Linked DNA regions of Homo sapiens: region 2 is linked to region 1. The links come from fine-mapping of genetic effects on gene expression. Tissue or cell type: whole blood. Region 1 holds a variant in brackets; the other region holds the start of a gene. All regions are shown on one strand. Distances are between the middles of the regions.

What was found. PIP is the estimated chance that this variant, and not a neighbour inherited with it, causes the effect.
Region 2: RPS6KA2 starts here. The variant in region 1 is fine-mapped to the expression of RPS6KA2 in whole blood (TOPMed, PIP above 0.99).

The regions. Positions count from the first base shown.
Region 1 is chr6:166,942,489-166,950,750 of GRCh38, forward strand. It overlaps RNASET2 (ribonuclease T2), which reads right to left. Exons shown (of 9, transcript NM_003730.6): 3 at 6,082-6,137; 4 at 4,194-4,251; 5 at 531-601. It also overlaps the pseudogene LOC105378119. Among named protein-coding and RNA genes, the nearest start is that of RNASET2, 9.9 kb to the right of the region's middle. RefSeq lists enhancers at 7,053-7,738, 7,864-7,913, 8,034-8,262 and silencers at 7,193-7,487, 7,194-7,263. The variant C/T (reference allele first, on the strand shown) is at 4,048.
Region 2 is chr6:166,623,726-166,631,725 of GRCh38, forward strand. It overlaps RPS6KA2 (ribosomal protein S6 kinase A2), which reads right to left and starts at 3,526. Exons shown (of 21, transcript NM_021135.6): 1 at 3,196-3,526. The coding sequence starts at 3,294. RefSeq lists silencers at 3,396-3,745, 3,806-3,975, 4,226-4,285.

The DNA of each region.
Region 1 (8,262 bases):
TTTTGTTTTTGAGACAGGGTCTCACCCTGTCACCTAGGCTAGTTATCACCCCAGCTGATCACAGCTCATTGCAACCTTGATCTCCCGGGACCACAGCCGCACAATACCACATCTAGCTGACCTTTTAAATTTTTGGTAGAGGTGGCATTTTGTCATGTTACCAGGCTGGTCTCAAACTCCTCAGCTCAAGCAATCCACCCGCCTCAGCCTCCCAAAGTGCTAGGATTACAGGCACGAGCCATTGTGACTGGCCGAGAAAAGTTTTAAAGCAAAGTAATAAATACCATACAGGTTAGAAAACAGGCTTATATGGTAAATTCCACTTGCTTTCAATTTTTTATACATTGGAGAAAGGCACCAAAAATGCCGTAACAGAATCATATCTCATAAAAGGTTGTTCAAACTGCTCAGCCCCAGAAGACAGATTCTGTTATCTTGCTTCCCACACAGTTTCCACTTCTAGCGATTCATCACGCTCCCCACACCCGCTCAGACAGTAATCAAGACAGCAATCAGAGGCTGGGACTTACCAGAAGCGGCTGCGATTGGGAAACGAGTGAATTACGTCAGGCCAGTATGCCCTCATTTCTGGCAAAAGATCCTATGCATTAAAAAATAAAATAAGTCTACGCAGGTTCTTAATAATAAACTCAAAACCTAGAAGGTAAATTTGATAAACTGACACCAAAGAATTGAGCTCTGCTAATTAACAATACTTTGGTGAATAAAATAATCCTATGCTTATTTTGTATGAAGTGTTTGTTAAGATATATCTACAAGTGCAATTTGAGTAATCATAAAACTGCACACGAAAATACAAGCTGTTATAGGTGAAGGGATAAAGTGTACATCCAAACAATGGAATATTTTCAGCAACAAAAACCAATGAGCCGTCGAGTCATGAAAAGACACTGGAGGAACTGCAAACATACATTGCTAAGTGCAAGAAGCCAGTCTGCAGAGGCTACATACTGTATGATTCCAACGACGTGACAATTTGGAAAAGGTAGTCTTAAGAGACAGGAATGAGATTCGCGGTTGCTTGGGGGTTCAAGGGGAGGAAGAAGGGGAGGTATGGCTCAGGGGGTTTAGGGCCAGCGGCTGCTCCAGAGCACACTGGGTGGGACTTGCTCTCCTGCATTTGTCCAAAGCCGCACAACACAGGAGTAAACCCTAATGTTAATGCTAAACTTTATTTAATAATAAAGTATCAGTATCAGTTCATTAATTGTAACAAATGTAACACACTATAGAAGATGTTAATGATTGGGAGAGTTGAGGGGGAAGGGAGTGAACTGTCTGTAATCTCCATCCAATTTTTCTGTAAACCTATAACTGTTCTAAAAACATTGGCCGGGCACGGTGGCTCACGCCTGTAATCCCAGCACTTTCGGAGGCCGATGCGGGCGGATCACGAGGTCAGGAGATCGAGACCATCCTGGCCAACCTGGTGAAACCCTGTCTCTACTAAAAATACAAAAATTAGCTGGGCACGGTGCCACATGCCTGTAATCCCAGCTACTCAGGAGGCTGAGGCAGGAGAATCGCTTGAACCAGGGAGTCGGAGGTTGCAGTGAGCCGAGATTGCGCCACTGCACTCCAGCCTGGCGACAGAGTGAGACTCCATCTTAAAAAAAAACAAAACGAAACCATCAGTTAAAACAAACAAACAAACAAAGGACAAGCTCTCCTTTTCCCAGAGAAGAGCTTGTGTGAGCTGGGCAGCCTGGGCACCAGTCGCGCTAAATCCAACAGAACTGGAGTTTACTTTTCTATTTCTACACACCCTCTACACCAAAAAAACCCCAAAAAGGTCAGTAAAAAGGTGCTTAACAAACTTCGGATAACTTCACTTTCCTTCCCTTTCTCCTGTTTTCCAGCACCCTATATGAGGGTCCTTTTCTCAGCCCATTTGTAACTCAGCCCCTACCCCACAGCCCCTGCCTGTGTGGGCGCAGCTCTGTCCCCCTCCTCTTCCCCTCCAGCCCCCCACCCCACCTCTCCTGCCCCACCATGCTGGCTTCAGCCCCATCAGCTCTCCGAGATGTCCTAGGGCACGATATGATTGAGTGTGCAAATTGGGCTACTTCCGTTTGGGACAATGCAAAGGTGTTCCTACTGCTACACAACAAGGAAGCCAGGACTACTCTGAGGAGCAGCGGCTCACACCACCACAGACCCACGACCCACCCACGCCCCCACTCAAAAAGCATTTCAGCTTTCCTGTCCTGGACCCCCCGGGGATATGCAGTCCTACGGTGCCTCTTCTCAAATCTCTCCACTCCTGGGTTTCCGCCTTTCCCAGCTGCAGGCACACATGCCCCTTTCCACCTGGCTGTTAACACGGGGCTCCACCAGCACTGTCCCCTCTGCCCACCAGGCCCACACCTGTCAGCGCTGTCCCCTTAGCCCACCCACATCCGTCAGCCCTGCCCCCTCACCCACCCACGTCCACACCTGTCAGCCCTGCCCTCACCCACCCACGTCCACACCTGTCAGCCCTGCCCTCACCCACCCACGTCCACACCTGTCAGCCCTGCCCTCACCCACCCACGTCCACATCTGTCAGCCCTGCCCTCACCCACCCACGTCCACACCTGTCAGCCCTGCCCTCACCCATCCACGTCCACACCTGTCAGCCCTGCCCCCTCATCCACCCACGTCCACACCTGTCGGCCCTGACTCCTCACCCATCCATGTCCACAGACCCATGTCCATCCCCACACCTGTCATTTTGATTCACCATCCTCATGCTAACTATGCCTAAAGCCACCTTTCCTCTGACCCTGAAGATCCTCTATGTCACCCCCTGGAGGTCTCAAGGGCACTTCAAACTCAATGTATCCTGAAGTGGCCTCTTCATCACGCCTCCCCAGAAACCATTCCCTGCAGTGAGTCCCGGAGGAGAGGAGGAGAGTCTGTGTGAGGAGCTAGAGACAGCACCAGGCTCTGGGGTGTCCCTTCTAAGTCTCACGGCAGTCCCCAGCCTCTTGGCTCATCCCACTGAAGGTCTTCACGGGGAGGAAAAAGAAAACAATTCCATATGGATTAGAACTTGTGGGCTGGGCGCGGTGGCTCCCACCTGTAATCCCAGCACTTTGGGAGGCCGAGGCAGGTGGATCACCTGAGGTCAGGAGTTCGAGACCAGTCTGACCAACATGGGGAAACCCCATGTCTACTAAAAATACAAAATAAGCCGGGCATGGTGGCGCATGCCTGTAATCCCAGCTACTCAGGAGGCTGAGGCAGGAGAATTGCTTGAACCCGGGAGGTGGAGGTTGCAGTGAGCCAAGATTGCGCCACTGCACTCCAGCCTGGGCAACAAGAGCAAAACTCTGTCTCAAAAAAAAAAAAAAAAAGAAAAGAAAAGAAAAAAAGAACTTGTGATGGATTTGCAACTAATGACCTTGGGGAATGTACCATTCCTAGGAAAGACCCACAACTCCCGCAAGCCTTCAATGCTACCACACGTTTTAAAGAAGGCCTCAGTTACCACCCCCTCCCTGGGGTCCAGGTCCAGTTACCCTGGTATATACTGGTTACACACAGGAACTGTTGGCACCCCTAAGGAAAGATGAGGGCGTGTGTGTGAGTGAAGACTCCGTATGACATATAAGGTACGGGTATCTCAAAGGAACGCCTCTGCTAGTATCTCTAATAAATTCCCGCCCTGTGAGTTTTCTTTAATCAAGCTCTTGTACTGGAAAGGCCCAGCATGTCCACCTGCTCAGAAACCCATCCACCAGATAGGACGGCCCCAGGCCTGTGCTCTCTGAGCCTCAGCTGTCTGGAGATGCCTGGCGATATGGCACACCGACCAGATTCCCACGTCGGTCATCTGACCCAGAAGTCCTGGGGCCTGGGACGAGGCGGGGCTGGCGGGCGAGCGTCAGGATCTGCACAGGTCTGGCATGGGGGAGTGTCAGGGCTTGCTCCGGTCGGAGCCCCTCGCTCAGGCCCCTCATGCAGTGGCTTGGGCACAGGGCAGGGGAGGGGAGGAGAGGGAAAAGGTCAATTGGTGTAATTTGTGGGGTCGAGATAACAATA[C/T]TTACTAAAACAGCAGCAAGGGCTCAATCCTGGTGAATACATTCATGACCCCTTAATTTTAAAGATGACTTTGAAGGTACGCTTGTGAAGAAAAGAGTTAATCTAGGTCAACACTCTGCAGTAGAAATATAATTAAAAGTCAATACCTTAATCTCTTCTAAATTGAAGGGCCACGATCTATTACATCCTTCACTTTTATCGGGCCTGGAAATTCAAATTTAAAAGAGAAAATAAGAAATATTAGGCTTGGTTGGGGTGGCTTCTACATGACCTTAGAAAACACTTTCATTGAAGTCTGCAAAGAATAAAAAGAGAAATTCTAATTGGGAATTCCTTATCCCAGGCAGGATGCTTAAGAAAGAAGATGCAGGTAAGAGGAGTCAGAGTTCAAATTTCTTTAGAAGGGAAAAGAAATTGTGTTAAACCGTCCAGGAGTAATGCAGACAGGCCACTGCTTAGTAAAGGAAGTGCAATGGATAGCCTAGTAGCACCGAGGAGCGGGGACTCTGGGGTCAGCCCCGGCTGGGTTGACGGCAACCTCTGCTGCTCCCTAGCACCGAGACCTAAGTAAGCTGACCCCCGGCCAATCTCCGCACCACAGATCCAGCATGAGAACAGCGAGAGTCTGTTCCTTTCAATGGTGAGGAGGACTCCAGGAGATGACAGATAAAACATGTCAGAAAGTGCCTGGCGTATGGCAGAAGATCAGCTAGTAGGATTTTCATTTCATTTTCAGTAGCAAACGCACTTACACTGTCTAGAACTTTAACTCCATCCTCACACATCTAATTCTGGACTTATCAACTCTGACTCTTGAGTGCTGCTTACTCCACAAGGTCACTAACTTCCTAAGACCCCGACCCCTCAGAGCCCCAAAGAGGCCAGGGAGGAGAGTGTCTTCAGGGTCAACAGCTGGACCAGCATGTGAAACCTGCCTGATTCTATCCGCTGGACTGGACAGCATTGCAAAGCTTCATTCCAGCCTCAGAAATGAAACGGCCATGATGGGCAGAGGTACATTCAGAGCACTTGGTCACAGCAGGGGAGAGGACACCACGCAAAGTCTAGCAAAGCCAGGAGCCCCAGAGACAGGAGGTCAAGGTTATCTGACCAGACAGAGAAGAAAGTGAAACCCGAAGCCAAGTACCTACATCCCAGTTTAACTTGTTTTCCACCAATCCCTCTTCCTAAGGAGCCAGGAGGCACCAATTAAGCTAAAAGGGCCCTTTTCAATCCCGGCATCGAGGCAGTGGGACAAAACGGGTCCTTCAGATGGGGCGATTAATGTGCACAGTTCAGCGTCACAAGTATGTCCATGTTACATAGAAAAGAATTAACTGAACAAAACGCAGACAAAACCAGAATAATAAATTTGAGTGTCTCTGAAATGTGTACGAGACGTGCATTTATGTATTTTCATGTAGTTATTTATAATAAACCCCAAGAGAAGAACAAAATGAGAAAATTAAAATGTAGTGACCCTGACATGTACCGAGAATCTGTAAACACTATTTTAAAAAGTGTTATTGGCTGGGCACAGTGGCTCACACCTGTAATCCCAGCACTTTGGGAGGCCAAGGTGGATGGATCACCTGAGGTCAGGAGGTCGAGACCAGCCTGACAAACATGGTGAAATCCTGTCTCTACTAAAAATACAAAAAATAGCCGGGTGTGGTGGGGCGTGCCTGCAATTCCAGCTACTTGGGAGGCTGGAGCAGGAGAATCACTTGAACCTGGGAGGTGGAGGTTGCAGTGAGCCAAGATCGTGCCACTGCACTTCAGCCTAGGCAACAGAGTAAGACTCTGTCTCAGAAAAAAAAAAAAAAAGTGTTATTGTTCTATGAAGACAGAATTAAAGAACAAGAGAATCAGGGTTCTGCTAGAAAGACTAAAGATATTTTTAAATAAGAATCTAGTCTATTGGATAAACTCCTAAAAATAAAAAACAAGAATAAATATTAAGACCACATTCAAGCTAGGGTTCCCAGTCAGCAAGCCTCTTCTGCCTAAGATTTAATTGTGTGAGACACTTGCCATAGTCCATGTATTGTCCAGTAATCCGGAGGGTCTCTACAGTCGTTTTGAATTTTCTAGGGAGAAAATATAACAAGAAAATGATTGGCTCTTTGTTTATTCAAATACACTTAGGAACCCTATTAAAATACATTTAGCAGCTAGTTGCAACATATGCCAACGAGATACAGGTACTGCACTAATAACACAAGCTAAAGCCAGGGCTACTTCACAATACATTGCTTACAACAACACATCCATGAGGAAGCTACACTAGGGCTGGATGTTCTAAGCCAAACGTCAAACAACTGACTTAACAGAAACAGCCATTTTTGTTAAGCCATTCCTCAAATATTTGACTTAACAGAAACAGGTGTTTTTATGGGCCAGGCGCAGTGACTAATGCCTGTAATCCCAGCACTTTGGGAGGCCAAGGCGGGTAGATCACCTGAGGTCAGGAGTTCCAGACCAGCCTGGCCAACCTGGTGAAACCCCATCTCTACTAAAAATACAAAATTAGCTGGGCGTGGTGGCAGGCGCTAATAGTCACTACTACTCAGGAGGCTGAGGCAGGAGAATTGCTTGAACTCAGTGAGCCGAGATCATGCCATTGCACTCCAGCCTAGGTGACAAGAAAAAAACCGTGTCTCCAAAAAAAAAAAAAAAAAAAAAAGGCTGGGCACAGTGGCTCACGCCTGTAATCTCAGCACTTTGGGAGGCGGAGGTGGGCAGATCATGAGGTCAGGAGATCGAGACCATCCTGGCCAACCTGTGAAACCCTGTCTCTACTAAAAATACAAAAATTAGCCAGGTGTGGTGGTGGGCTCCTACAGTTCCAGCTCCTCAGGAGGCTGAGGCAGGAGAATAGCTTGAACCCGGGAGGCAGAGCTTGCAGTGAGCCGAGATCGCGCCACTGCACTCCAGCCTGGGTGATAGAGCAAGACTCCATCTCAAAAAAAAAAAAAAAAAAAAAAAAAGAAAGAAATGATCAAGGGCATAATCTGAGCCAGATAAGTGAAACTGCATTTTCATTTGTCAACAGAAAAATCAGTTGAGGAAGTAGAACAGAAAGTCCTTACTGCTCAGTGCTGGAGAAAGAGGGTCAGAGGCCAAAACCTGTAACTTCACCTCTGCCACTCAACTCTATCCCTCAGGGAACCCAGTTCAAAGCCAGAAGCTGGGCTCCTTTCCTGGAGGCAATGCAGAGAGCAAAGCCTGCACCACACGGGGCTCTGAGGGCTCTGCACAGCACTCAGTTCCCAGGCCTGCCTGCATGGAGCTGTGGGAGAGCCCAGAACACTGAGAACCCGACAGGCAGACTGAGCATCTTTGACACAAGCATCTCATCAGAGGGGGCACCAGGGACAGCCCTCACTGCCTAGGAGGACACCTGGGCTCAAACAGAACCCTTCACCATGGCTGCCCAGTAGGAAATACACTCCTTAACAAGGACATTTTGCTACAGATTTTTTTTTAAATCTTGTTTCTAAAGCCTCAAGGCAAAGATGTGCCTCCACCCATATTTACATTCAGTGTGCAGGGACACACCCACGTTTTGTCATGTAAATGCCTCCCTGAATGCAGAGCAGCCTGGTCTCAGGCCCTGGAGGCAGATCCTTCAGTGTGGGTCAAAGACAGTGCTTAAGTTCCAGCTCCTCCTCCACGGTCCTTCTTCCGTAGGAACCAAGGACTCCAGCAATCCCTCCCTATCTCAGAATGCCAGCTACACTCCCAACAATTGAAAGTTGATGCCAGGCAGCTTCCGGCTCCTTCTGTCCACTGCCCCAACCCAAGGCAAGGAAACAGCAGCAGGAGCGCAACATTAAGTCTGCAAAACTGAAAACGGGGCAATCTCGTGTACAGAAGTGAGCAAGAGCATAATTTGAGCCAGATAAGCAAAATTTCATTTTCGTTTGTCATCAGAAAAATCAGTGAGGAAGTAGAAGCGAAAGTCACTACCACTCAGTGCTAGAGGCAAAACATAAAGCCTGCGTGCTCCTGACAGAATGTGGTGCTAGCTCAGCAACACGGTCAAACACTTGAGAAGTGTGCAATGCACACCAGGGTCAGCTTGACACACCGAGCAGGGTACGCCCTGAGGTGCAGATCCAGGCAGTGTCCTGGCTCTGGGTGCTCCAATGAGAAGGGCCTGGACACTGACGCACTGAAGGGATGTGGGCATGGAGCAAAACGCAGCCAGAT
Region 2 (8,000 bases), 320 kb before region 1:
GTCACTGAGACCTGACACCTTTCTGGGGCACACCCATGGAAGTCTATGGAAGATACCCAGTTTTCCTCTAGAAACCCCCAAAATTATAGTTGCCAGAGTCAACAACTTGGCCATCTCACTTGGTTCTATGCTGATAGAGGACAAAAATATTCAGTGAATTTCATTTTAATCTGTAATTAATAAACTGTTTCCAAATATGATTAAGTAACCTGACTTCTCTGTCACTTAGGGTTTAGCAAATGTTGGGTTATGGACGTAAAATTTATTTTAAAATCAAGTATGTTCAGAGAAGTTTTGCCAAGCATAAATGTAAAAGAGAGGAAAAAAAAGAAGGAACTTTAGAAATTTCTCATTATTTAAAAAAATAAAAAATGAAAATAAATAAAATCAAGTATGAAAACATTAGGACTGAGTCTCTCTCTGAAAGCCTTTTAAATGAAGATATTGTTTTCAACTTAAAGTAACTACATTAATTTCCTGTTTATGTCACTAGACTTTGAATTTCAAATAACAAAAATTTTCAAAGTCTTTGTATATTTCAAAATATAAATTTCACAGAAACAATTTTAAAATGTTTCCTATTATAAAACAAGTTATCTTTCTCATTCATCCACACAGAGGAAATACACATCTGTGTTCAGTACTTTGTGTCCTATTTCTCAACCTCAATCCATTGACAGACCTCCCCTGCTCAGTTTTACATTTTTTGATGAGTGCTTCTTGGCCTATAACCAGCTGTGAACACACAAACGAACAGGCAGCCTTCTCAAGTATGGGTAGGGCGCAGAAGAGGAACTTACTGGACTGGGGCACAAAGTCAGCTGCTTGTGAGACTCATCACTGGGTGGAAGTGCCCTGAGGCCAGGACTTCTATGTCTCGTGTCTTTTTGGACACAGTATCCAGAAAAAGACCAGCCCAAGACCCGGTCCTCCATAAACACTTGCAGAATGAATTCCTTGGAAAGCTTTTAACAAGACTCTCAAACTCTCAGGGTTTCTTCCCCTTAGCAATAGAATGAGGAAAGTTACATATGCTACCCCGATTTTCACAAGTATCAAATAATAGAAAGCTGGGGAATGCATTTGTAAAAAAGAGAGCATTGTATTAGCATTGACCTTTTTTTTTTTGAGACAAGTCTCGCTCTCTCGCCAGGCTGGAGTGCAGTGGCGCAATCTCGGCTCACTGCAACCTCTGACTCCCTGGTTCAAGCGATTCTCCTGCCTCAGCCTCCTGAGCAGCTGGGATTACAGGCACGCGCCACCATGCCCAGCTAATTTTTGTATATTTAGTAGAGATGGGGTTTCTCCATGTTGGCCAGAATGGTCTCGATCTCCTGACCTCATAATCCGCCCGCCTTAGGCTCCCAAAGGGCTGGCATTACAGGCATGAGCCACTGCGCCCGGCCATTATTGACCATCTTAGTGAGACCTCCAGCACCTAGTACGGGATCTGGCACACAGGAAGCACTAATTGACTACTTGCTCTTAGACTACATGTATTTTCAGCCCATTTGACCTCCTACATCGCTGATGGTTTATGTATGACTTCTAGAAATTTTATTTCTACATGGAAGAAACCTCGTTTCCTATTCCCACCACCCCCCCACCCCCCCCCCCGCTTGTTTCCCACTGTATTCTTTCCGGAGGCACGCCTGCAGCCCAGCCCTCCTTGCAGAACCCTGTGACACCAGAGGCGTGTGTATCCAGAATCAGGCAGATTCCTGAACTCCCACTGGTCAGCCAGTGTCTAGTGCTGCTCTTCATAAACAATGCCTGGAGTGTGCTCACACGTGTACCTCTTCTTGGCAAAGACAGTAAATGGAAGGAGACAAGGAGTTGTCTAATAAACTTGGCATTGAGATGAAACAGGAAACAAAGACATGTATCCGGATAAAGATAAATACTGTTCTGAGTTTCTGATCTTGTCAACTTCAGATTTTTTAAGTGCCTGTGTCCCAGGAAAATGATTTGCCTCACTGGTGTGCTTCATTTCTTTCAATATTAGACTTAAAAGCAAGCCCTCCTCCAGTACTGGATTAACAGTTTTGTTTGAAAGATGTGTTTTACCCTCGGGAACCGGCCATACTGATCCTATCTAGTACTTCCAATTCTGATTTAGGGATGCCATAAGAGAAACTTTTTAAACAAGTAATTCTCTTCTACTTTTTTGTCTATTCCTCAGGTCTCTCAATGGTTACAGAACCCATGTCTGTGTCTAATATCATGGCAGCTGGGACAAAGAAAACCAAGATGAAACATTTGAGATTGTTCCAGCTGAAACAAACCAACCAAAACCCCACAGGTGCCAGCCTTGAGGCAAAGGCGGGACAGTGTCAGGCGAAATCTTTGGGTCCCAGCCTCAGTCTCCCCATCACCATGTCTTTTTCACTTAAACACGTTTCACTGTTTTGTCATCTATAGATTCAACAATGTGATTTGGACACTGGGAATAAGAGAATAAGATTTGATGGTTGAAATAAAACACACCACGAGAGAACCGTCCACAAGGAAACTCTAAGATGCCAAGATGCGGGACAGGTAGAAAGGACAGGGCTTTGGGAGTACTCTGGGTTTTCAGGACGAATCTGTATCAGCCTCGGCGCTGCGAGGATATTGCATCAGGCTCTTTACTCCTGAACGCCGTTTTAGACGCCTAAGCAGATTGTGCTGCTGCCTGTTCTTCCCCGTTCTGTGAATTCTACACTGACTTCAAGTGCACGAATGAGCTACAAGATAAGGTGGAACCTGCCGGCCGGGCACGGCAGACAGCACCTGATCAGCGCCTCGGAGGGCGGAGCTGGGGGGCTTCTCCACTCGGGACTTTGAGGGACCCCCGCGGAGCGCTCCGCGCCACTCGGCGGTCTAGCTGCAGAGAAAGCCCCTCCTCACCCGGGGCTCCCTGTGGCCCACAGGGGACCATCCCACACCCCGTGCAGCCAGCGGCGGAGAAACCAGCTGGAAATGCAGTGGGGGTGGAGTTGCCCCCGCGAGGACCCACGGACCGCCCAATTACTACGGAGTCCCAGCGATAACGTTTGGAGCCGTTTGGTTCGATTTTCGGAACCGGACCAGCTTTCCAGTAACTTGAACTCCCTGACGGGTCTCGGGGTCCACCCAGGGGTGGCGAGGCGGGCTCGGGCGACCACGGCCCGCTCAGTGCCCGGCACCTGCGCGCCCCGAGGGCGGCCGCATTACCTCGAGCCGGCTCAGGCTGGAGCTCTTGGAGCGCGACTTCCTGCGCAGGTACACAGAGAAGAACCTGCGCACGGCGAACTTCTTCATGCTCAGGTCCATCGCCCCGCGCCCAGCCCGGAGCAGCCGCAGGGCCGGGGGACGCGCATCCCCGGCATCCCAGGCGCGGGGCTCAGGTCCGCGGGCGGGCACGCGTGGCCAGGGAGCCCGGCACGGCGGCCATGGGCGCGGGGCGTGGGGCGCGAGCTGCGGTCACAAAGGGCAGGCCGCGCCGGCCACCGCGGCCGGGGCCACAATCGCTCCCTCCGCCTCCTTCTCCGCCTCCCCTGCGAGTACCAGCGCCGGCCACGCGCCACGCCTACACCACGCCCACCACCACTACCACCAATCAGCGCCCGCCGCTCCGCGCCCCGGCACGCACACCTCCTCCTCCTCCGCCCCGCCCCGCCACTACGGCCAATCAGCGCTCACCACCCCTCCCGTTCCCACCCACCACCAGCACTGCCAATGAGAGCCCACCGCCCCGCCCGGGAGAGCCCCGCCTCTGCCGATACCTCCAATCATCAGCGCCGCCCTGTGGTTCCAGGTGCCCATCCCTCCTCCTCTTTCTACTCCTTCCTACAAGAACCAGCTCCGTGCAGCCCCGCCCCCACGCGGTTCCGCCCACGGCCCCGCCCACAGCACTGCCCGCCAATCAGTGCCCGCAGCCGCCGCATACCTAATGAGCCTCGGCCCGGGACAGCTCCCGGCCCGGGCGAGTTGTGCAGCTGCTCCGGAGCCGCGCAGTCGCGGGCGTTCCTGTCACGCAACTTCGGCCCGGCTGCTCTTTCTTCCAGCTTGGGGCCGTCATTATGTTTTCCTTCCTTAAAACATCCCTATGCACACTTTGTCATCATGTTTTTCTCTGCCGAACCAAACTTTAATTGTTGATCAGCAAACGCAGCCAAAACCTCAGCGGCACAGCGAGCGAGGGACCGCCGCCTGCCAGCGGGCCCTGCAGCTCGGCCAGGAGCCGCCCTCCGCGGAACCGGCGCCTTCCCTCCGCCGGAGCGGACAAAGGCGCCCGAGGGCGGGGGCTCAGGCAGCCCTCGGGGCGCCTCCCTCCCGCGGCTGCAGAACAAAGACGCATCCGCCCTCCGCAGCCGGTCCCGCTCTAGGAAACGTCTACACAGATGGCTTATCAGGGCCCGCGCTGGGAATACCCGGGCGGGGTGACCTGGGTCTAGGGCAAGGCCCTCAGACCCGCTGCTGGCGGCAGCGCCGCTCGGGATCCGCCTTAAAGGGAAACACTTTTTTCTTTTTTTTCCTAGAAATGCTCACCAAGGGCTGCAGCAGGGCCGAGAATGCGGGCTCACGACCCCGTGCAGCCTGCTCTGTTTTCCTCTTGTGCACGTGTTGAGTTTGTATTTAAAAACAGGGAGAAACCGAGCCCATTGACATAGCACCATCACCACCTGCAAAGAGCAGAAACGAGTGCGGTGGTGAGTTGACAAGTCTTGCTTGCTCTTTTGCAGTGCGAACTGCAAAATCCTCGCGTTGTTTTGCTCCCTGGACTAGTCAGATGTTGCGTTAATACTTGTGTAGTCTATTTTGGCTAAGGTGGGTAGAGAGGTCAGAATGTCCTTAAATAAGAGCTTTAAAGTCATGCTGCATCCGGGCTGAGGTGAGGTCAGATAGGCTCTCTGGGTTTCCTGGAGACCCGCGTTGAGCGGTGCTGCTCCGGAGTGGAAGCCGGGAGTTTAGCACCACGACTCTGGCGCTGCCCCTTCCTTGCTTGGTGAACTTGGGTGCCGTTGCACGTTGTTCCCACGACTCATCTCTAAGAGGAAAATACGAGTGAAACCTGTCTCACCTCCCTTACTGGATACCAAGAGGCTTATGCAAGATCACGGATGTGGGAGTGCTTTGTGAATTTAAATAGTGCAATTGATTTTCATATTATGTATTAAAGGATCTATAATGACTATTCTTTAAAAACAGAAGTGCAGGACCCCACAAGGACACCAAACACCACTTTTTGCTCCTTTTCAAGATGGTGTGCCAGTTAAGTGCCCATGAAAACTGCTTTGCCTGCTTCCTTTAAGGTTCTGCTGGGAGGGTAGTAATCTGTGCTCTCAGAACCAGCCTCTTAGTGCCCTGTATCCCTGCTGGGACCCTCAGGCATCCTGGCTCTAGGCAAACACAAAGACACTCTGTACCCAGCACGGGAAGAGGTAGATGGACCTCCAACTGGACACAGACTCCGGGAATGAGGGAGGACCAACCCGACCATGCTTCCCTCGGAAGGGGAGCCAGTAATACTGGCCGGAGACAGGAGTGCTGAATGCCACCTATACCAACTCATGGGCATCCTGTTCAGGACAAAAGCCCCAAGGCAGGCAGGCCTAAGTCAAGGCTTGTGTTGTACCAACAATAGTATTTTGACCTGATCTGACAAAATTGGAAAGGAAATATTTCATGGGACATTCATTAGTTCCCCAAATTTGAAGGCAACAAAACTGTTCTGTTGAACTTGGGAGGGAAAATCATTCAGATTTCACTGGAATTCATTGCTAGAACAATAAATCTGTTTGCCTTTGTTTTTCTCCTGGTAAAATACACGTATACCAAAATCTCTAGTGATCATGGAACACTACTTCATGTGATTATGTAATGAAATCCTCCAAAACCACTAAATCTAGGGTAGGTATAATATCAAGACCCACTGTAACCGAAATCCAAATTATCCTTACCAAATACCAGAAAAGAAAGTGAACTTGATAAAGGCTCTTGCCCAGATGATGGAATGGGAGAGGACTGAAGAGAAGATAAAGAGCTTGGTAGACCTCTGAGTATCTCACATTTCCTCTGACTCAAGCACAGTAAGTTTGAGACTGAATTCCGTGGTGACTGCTGCTTCTATGAGTACCAGATTAGCTGATGTGTGGTCAATGCAATTCCACAAGTGATTATCGAGCACTAACATCTGGCACTGTGGTGGTCATTTGTGACACAAAATGATTACAACATCCCAAGAAGTTCACAGTCTTATGGAAGAGAAGGTGAGTGAACAGACAAAGCTCATGCCGTTTTTATGTAAAGTGAAAGAAATGCGTAAGAGATGAATGAGAAGCCAATTCTAATTGGCGAAGTCAAGGAGGAGATGGCCTTTGCTCTGAACCCCTGAGGGTAAGAAGATGAGGGAATAAGTTTCCTGGACAGACAAGAGGAGGCGGGAGTCCCAGGCTGAGGAATAACAGGGCACTGTCAGGCAGCTGTGACAAGGTTTCCCATCTCTCCCTGCTACACAGGCACCTTGTGGGTAAGGCTGGTGTGCTCTCTGCATATGGGAAGATGCCACATTCTCGGGGCACCCCACAGGAGTGGCTTGAGTGACATCCAAGAGCTTCTAATTAGTCAAGTACCACAAATGTCTGTTCGTCTCCAAACAGTCCTACAGGCTGCTGAAAGTTTCAAGCTTCTAAAACTCCCACATATTTTCAATAAAACGCTAAATTGCACTTCAAGTGAAACTATATATCTTTAAAATAAATTGAAACATTCGGTCTTCATTAGGACTAAAGTTTTGCCATGGGAGGTGAATTCACTAGGTTCACCTGATGCAAAACTTCACCAGGATCACCAGGGTCACCTGGTGCTGGCCATCTGCGAAAGCAGGAAGTCGTGCTTTTCCGGAGTATCAGCATTCGAAGGCTCTGCCCATCACAGGCATCCTGCTGGATGCTCCAGAGACAGTGTCCAGCCAGTACGAGGGAGGGAGGTGGGCTTCAGTGTGTGCCCCTGTGAACTACTTCCTGTGGCTGTGATACAAATGGGTTTAGTCAAGCTTCCCTTAGTGTAGTCCCTGAGTGTACAGAAAGGAATCCTTTTCCTGGGCTGTGGATCCCCGTGTACTTGAAATGTTTATGACTTTGAAGTTTCTTGAATGTAGGAATTAGTCCTTGCTCAGGAAGATGGTCTTAAAGTCCTGAGACCCTAGAAGGTAAACTGTAGTGGACAGTTCAGGTGGGGGCACGTTCGGAGCAGGTGTCAGCAAGGGGCCTGGAGCTGTCAGGGAAGGGCTTCTTGGGCCCTCGGCAAAAGTCAGAAGGGATCAAGTTTGCCTCTGGTCTCTGGCTGGCCCCTGGCCCTCACCCACAGGACACTTGGGTCTCATTCACATCTGGGTGCCAACCAAGCCATGTCAGAATGACACCTGTGCCCTCAGTTTAACAGTTTAAAATCTCTGAGCATATCGAAAATTTAAAAAGAAAGTCTTAATGCGTAAAAGTCTTCAAAATGACAGAAATAAAGCTCTAATGGTGAAGTACCAGGAAATGGAATTTACATTTGAAACCAGAGGGCCTGGTTTCTGAGTAGTCAGGAGAGGCAGGTGGAAACCCACAGGCCAGTTGTACTTGACCCTTATTGACTGGCTTACATTTAGGAAGAAAAACCACATTGGGTTTCAAGCTGTGGAAACCATCATGGTTGGCTTCCTCCCTCCCCGCTGGAGCCCTCATCCCCCATCCAACCTGGGTAGGAAGGCACAGGGCTCACAGAAGGTGGGCTTCACCTGCAACACCTCCCCCGCCAGCCCGCTGTGAGGACAGCTTTGGATTTTATTGGTTTTTAAATACTATGTTCCTTCATACCACTTTCTTTTGAAACCCATTTATAAACCATAGGGCCAGAATCTACAGAGAGGCTGATCAAATAACTTTCCTGGTAACACAGATTTTTTTTCGTCCCTCTGCCTGGGGCACTCTGGTGCCTTCCATGGTGTCAGCGGAGCACGGCTGGAGTCATGACTCCCAAACAGCGAGAAG